Regions from separate parts of the Homo sapiens genome. Here region 2 is linked to region 1. The links come from fine-mapping of genetic effects on gene expression. A gene starts in region 1. The other region holds a variant in brackets. All regions are shown on one strand. Distances are from middle to middle.

Region 1 (2,912 bases):
CAGAGCGAGACCCTGTCTCAAAAAATATATATATAAATATATATATAAATATATATGTGCATATATATACGTATATATACATATGTATATATACGTATATATGTATATATGTATATATAAATATATGTATATATAAGTAGAGAGAGAGAGAGAGAGAGAGACGGAGTCTCACTCTGTCGCCCAGGCTGGAGTGCAGTGGCGCGATCTCGGCTCACTGCAAGTTCCGCCTCCCGGGTTCACATCATTCTCCTGCCTCAGCCTCCCGAGTAGCTGGGACTACAGGCGCCAGCCACCACGCCCGGCTAATTTTTTGCATTTTTAGTAAAGACGGGGTTTCATCGTGTTAGCCAGGATGGTCTCGATCTCCTGATCTCGTGATCTACCCGCCTCGGCCTCCCAAAGTGCTGGGATTACAGGCGTGAGCCACCGCGCTCTATTTTTTTTCTTTTCTTTTTCTTTTTTTTTTTTTTTTGGTACCAATGAGGTCTCGCTCTGTCGCCCAGACTGTTCTCAAACTCCTGTCCTCAAGCGATCCTCCTGCCACAGACTTCTGGGACCACAGGTGTGCGCCAGCACACTCAGCTTATTTTAAAAAAATTTTTTTTTTTTTTGGTAGTCTCCCTATGTTGCTCAAGCTGGTCTTGAGCTCCTGGGCTCAAGCGATCCGCCCCCCTTGGCCTCCCAATGCGCTGGGATCCCAGGCCTGAGGCATCGCGCCGCCCGACGTCCCCCTTTGGTTACTCTGACTGCCCGCTGATCTGTATAAGAGGATCCGGAGGGGAAATAATGCAAGGTGGAAGTCAGAGTCCGGAGCCTGGTCCAGGGTCTCTGCACTGGCCCTGACCCTGGCAAATGTCCCTGACTCCTGGGGCTCGATTTCCTCCGGCCAAGAATGGACGGTCTCGCGCTTGGTCCCTGGCCTCCGAGTTGTGCCCCCAGGACAGAGGCAGGTCTGAGCCGGGCTGTAGGCCCGCTGCGACTTTTACACCGAGGCCTGCCGGCTCAGGATCTGTCCCCTTTGCAGGTGGTTTGTAGAGAAAAACTACATTAACTACAAGGCATTGCCAGGTGCGACGGCGGGCCCTGGGGCCAATGATGGTCCAGGACAGGGGCGTTTCCTGTGGGTTGCGAAGCTTGGGGCGGGACTTCCGGCATTTGGATGGGACGTAATTTGGGAGCGACGGTTCCGTCCACGCCGGCTCTAGGGAGGGGGCGGTGTTCCGTGGCCGCCTCCCTGGCGGCGCTGGGGAAATGAGCAGGTAGGAGGCCGACAGCGACCTCCGCGTCTCGGAGCGAACCGTGAGCCTCCCCGTAACGAGAGAGTTTGACTGTCAGCCAAGGTCACCGGGCCCGGCGCAGGGAAGGGGTGGGGCTCGGCTGAGCCCGCGAGACCCGCCCTGCTCGCCGCAGCCCCCGCCCCGCTAGGGCCACAGGGTCCCGGTATGGCGATGGCTTTGACGGACCCGGCGCAGGTGAGTGGACAAGGTTTCGGCCTTGCTGCTTTTCTGCTAGTTCGGGGAAGCCTCCTGGGCAGGCCGGAAGCCAAGACAGCCACAGGATTCCTCTTTGTAGTTTTGTTTGTTTACGAAACGTGGAGCAGGCTCGTCACTTAGTTTATCTCCTGTCGTGGTAGTACCTGAGAGACTGAATATTGAAGCGGACAGTAGGCAGACTATACATCGATTATAGGGCTGTGACGTACAATTTTTTTGTAGCAACCTGCCCAGGAAACCAGCCTCCTGTTCTGCAATAAACTACTCTGGAAGCCAGTCTGCCTTAAGTTAGTCTTGCAAGGAGCTAGATTACTCTCTGGTGACATTTCAGGAGGCTAAACGGTAACTCCTGGAACAGTAGGCCCCAAATAGGACTTGATTTGTAACTGACTGTTCTAATTTTTGCCTCCGCCTCCAAAAGAGGACCAAGCAGAGAAAGCCATACGTGCTCAGCCTAACCAATCACATACGATGCCCCACTTCTAGTTAGCCCTTCTGCAGCTTTCCACTGCTAAAGTGTCAGGCCTCTGAAAGCTGCTTAATAATTGCTTGAAGGATGGATGAAGTTCCACTCCAGGGACTCCCGTCACACACATCATCCGAACTCAGCCTTGGCCTGCAAGTCCCTACCCGGTCCACTATGGCTGACCACCTCTGTCCTTGTTTCCTTCCTTTCCTCCCTGGCTCAGCGCTTCAGACACAGGTCCACTATGGCTGACCACCTCTGTCCTTGTTTCCTTCCTTTCCTCCCTGGCTCAGCCCTTCAGACATATCAATCTGATCACGCAGAGTTCTTTCCTACCCCTCAGCCTTCACCTTTACAGTTCATTCAGCCTCAGACACTATCCTCAGATCTCTGCAAGACCCTTTCACATCTTGTTGGCTCTGCTCAAATGTCACTTCTTTAAAGCGGCCTTTCATGGCAGTTCAGACTAAAGTAGTCCCCTTCTCACCTGCCCTTGGTCTAGCGTTTTTGTATAGAGAATCTGGCAAAGTTTTAGACACCTACTGAGTTGAGGTCTTAAAGGATTTTGTGGGGACAAAGAGCATAAATAATAACACAAGAACTGTAACGGTTGGCCTTCATTGAGTCCTTGATGTGAACTGAGAAATGGGCATTATTTATCATCTCATTTAATCCTGATCTCCTTAAAGTGACATTCTATTATAAACACTGCTGTACACAAGAGGAGGTCAAGACTCCGACCTGTTTAGTTACCTGCTGAAAGTCACATAGCACTTAAGTAACAAACTCATATTTAGCGTGTGGACCACCAGAGCCTTTGTTTTTACAGACAGTTGGCTGAGAAGCCCTGAGGTGAACTTTGCAGTCTTTCCAGCAAGTCACAGTGGCCATTGGAAGCGAAAGGCAGACATTCCACTAGAGAGGACTGTGTAGACAAAGGCAAAGTGTGTTGG
Region 2 (2,912 bases), 29 kb after region 1:
CATGATCTTGGCTCACTGCAACCTCTGCTTCCCGGGTTCAAGCGATTCTCCTGCCTCAGCCTCTCGAGTGGCTGGGATTACAGGCATGTGCCACCACGCCCGGCTAATTTTTGTGTTTTTAGTAGAGATGGGGTTTTGCCATGATGGCCTGGCTGGTCTCAAACTCCTGACCTCAGGTGATCCACCCTCCTCGGCCTCCCAAAGTGCTAGGATTACAGGCGTGAGCCACCGCGCCTGGCCCCTTTACTTTCTTAATAAACTTGCTTTCATTATGGACTCACCCCGAATTCTTTTTTGTGGAAGATCCAAGAACCCTCTTGAGGTCTGGATTGGGACCCCTTTTCAGTAACAATGTTCTTAGAATAAATTATCTCATCAAATCGATACATGAAGGCCTATGGACTCAGGCTTAAAAATTACTTTTACCAGGCAAAATATTCCAGAAACTCAGAGATTGTCTTCCTGGAGCTGATCAAGGGCCATTTCTTTCTTTAGAATGTATAGCATCTGAGCAACTGAAGCCTGATGAGTTCACACTTTCGTGTATAACCAAAGCCCTGGCCCTAGCCTAGAATCTCTTACAGCAAAACAATCATATTTACTGAGCATCTACATTTAGTATAACATTTATATAAGATATATCAGCAGTATCATCATGAACATGCTGAGCCACTGGAGCAGCTCGTGTGGGGAATGGATAGATTTAGAAACAACAATCCATCCCATAAAGCCATTCATACTTTTCCATATATTTGTATCAATTCAATTACTCATTGTTCTCCTTGATCTACTGTTAATTGTACTTTGTGGTAAACCACCTCCCCTCTCACTACATTGGCTTAAGTTATCCTCCACCTTGCACATCTGGAAAGAGCCAGAGCTCCCTAACAGGACTTCTCCCTCTTGCCCCTCCCATATTCCAATTTCCATAGACTACCCAGAGTGATCCTTTTAAAACATAAATCAGTCCAGGCACAGTGGCTCACGCCTGTAATCCCAGCACTTTGGGAGGCTGAGGCGGGTGGATCACGAGGTCAGGAGATCGAGACCATCCTGGCTAACACGGTGAAACCCTGTCTCTACTAAAAATACAAAAAATTACCCGGGCATGGTGGCACATGCCTCTAATCCCAGCTACTCCAGAGGCTGAGGTGGGAGAATCGCTTGAACTCAGGAGGAGAAGGTTGCAGTGAGCCGAGATCACGCCATCACACTCCAGCCTGGCGACAGGGCAAGACTCCGTCTCAAAAAACAAACAAAAACATAAATCAGATAACATCACAGCTCTGCTCAAAACCCCATGATGGCTACCCATTTCACAGTGTATTAGCTATATTTTCTTATTTTCTGCATT[G/C]TTGATGCTATGGAATTTGGGACCTTGCCATTTAGAGTTAACTGATTCTTAGAGATTGCAAATGACTCACTCTGAACCATGCCTTTTATTTGCATACTAACAAATCCAGAGTACCCTAATGTGAATCATCTCCTCTGTCTGGCTCTTACACTACAGGAGACAATTTTTTTTTTTTTTTTTTTTTTTTGCTCTAATGACTCCAGGGCCAGGTACTAGGCAGACAGGGACAGCTCCTAGACCCCAAAGTCTACCAACTTTATTCAAACCAGCAAATCCTCTTCTGGTTACCCAGCCCTGCCTTTCTTTTCCTGTGGAAAACAATAAAGGATCTGGCCTCTGCTTTCTCCTCTGCTTCTGCTTCTTATACCACCCTGGTGCTTCTCACATAGCCCTGCAGGATGTGTTTTGCCTACTGTTTCTAAAACTCCGTGAGTTGAAAGTTCTTCCTTCCTGGCAATCATTTGCATGTCCGAGTTTCTTATCAGACCATACTGCAAAAAACCCCAGGTACATTTTTGAACACACAGGAACATATTACAACCTCTCTACGCTGGCATAAAAGACTACACAATTTGTTTCCATCTATCTCTCCAACTTCCATGCACATTCAGTTCCAGCCGCACTAGGCTTCTTGGTGTTCCACAAACACCCAGGATGCTCTGTCAGTTCCATTGTCCTGTGTGTTTTCTCTGAGTGATAACACTGTTTCCTGAGATCTCCACTTGATGAGTCTTTAATTCCTCCAAGTCCATGCTAAAACATCACTTTTTTTTTTTCTTTTGAGACGAAGTCTTGCTCTGTCGCCCAGGCTGGAGAGCAGTGGCGTGATCTCGGCTCACTGCAACCTCTGCCTCCCGGGTTCAAATGATTCTCCTGCCTCAGCCTCCCTAGTAGCTGGGACTACAGGGGCCCACCACCACGGCCAGCTAATTTTTTGTATTTTTAGTAGAGACGGGGTTTCACCATGTTAGCCAGGATGGTCTCGATCTCCCGACCTCATGATCTGCCTGCCTCAGCCTCCCAAAGTGCTGGGATTACAGGCATGAGCCACCACGCCCGGCCTAACTGTCCTATTAGACCTGTCCCAACCACTCTGTATTGCACAACTGGCTTTATCCCACTCTCACTGATTCTTAATCTGCTCTAGTTTGTCTTATCTCCGCAACACTCCTAACCTTCTATATTGTTTAGGAGTTTTGGATTATTATTATTTTGTGTGTGTGTGTGTGTGTGTGTGTGTGTGGTATGTATGTGTCTCCATTGTGACTTTTTGTTTTTTTGTTTAGAAACAGGGTTTCGCTAGATAGCCCAGGCTGGTCTCAAACTCCTGGTCTCAAGCGATCCTCCTGTTTCAGTGTCCTGAGTAGCTAGGACTACAGGAACAAACCCACCAGGCCCAGCTCTGTATCTCCACTGTTTAGAGCAGAGCCTATCACAAGATAGTCAAGTACTTGTTGAGTTAATTAATTAAAAGTTAGTAAATATATAAAAATATATTTTCAAATGGTTATGAATGTCCTAAAGAAAAATAGAGCAGAGTAATATTGGGGTGAGGGAC

What was found. PIP is the estimated chance that this variant, and not a neighbour inherited with it, causes the effect. A credible set is the group of variants that fine-mapping cannot tell apart.
Region 2: its variant is the best candidate, but not a certain one, in a credible set for the expression of ZNF805 in whole blood (TOPMed, PIP 0.85).

Annotation. Positions count from the first base shown.
Region 1 is chr19:57,239,450-57,242,361 of GRCh38, forward strand. ZNF805 (zinc finger protein 805) reads left to right here and starts at 1,183. Exons shown (of 4, transcript NM_001023563.4): 1 at 1,183-1,472. The coding sequence starts at 1,443. RefSeq lists enhancers at 781-1,000, 1,021-1,290 and a silencer at 1,411-1,480.
Region 2 is chr19:57,268,261-57,271,172 of GRCh38, forward strand. All of the region lies in intron 2 of ZNF460-AS1 (ZNF460 antisense RNA 1), which reads right to left. Among named protein-coding and RNA genes, the nearest start is that of ZNF460-AS1, 11 kb to the right of the region's middle. The variant G/C (reference allele first, on the strand shown) is at 1,355.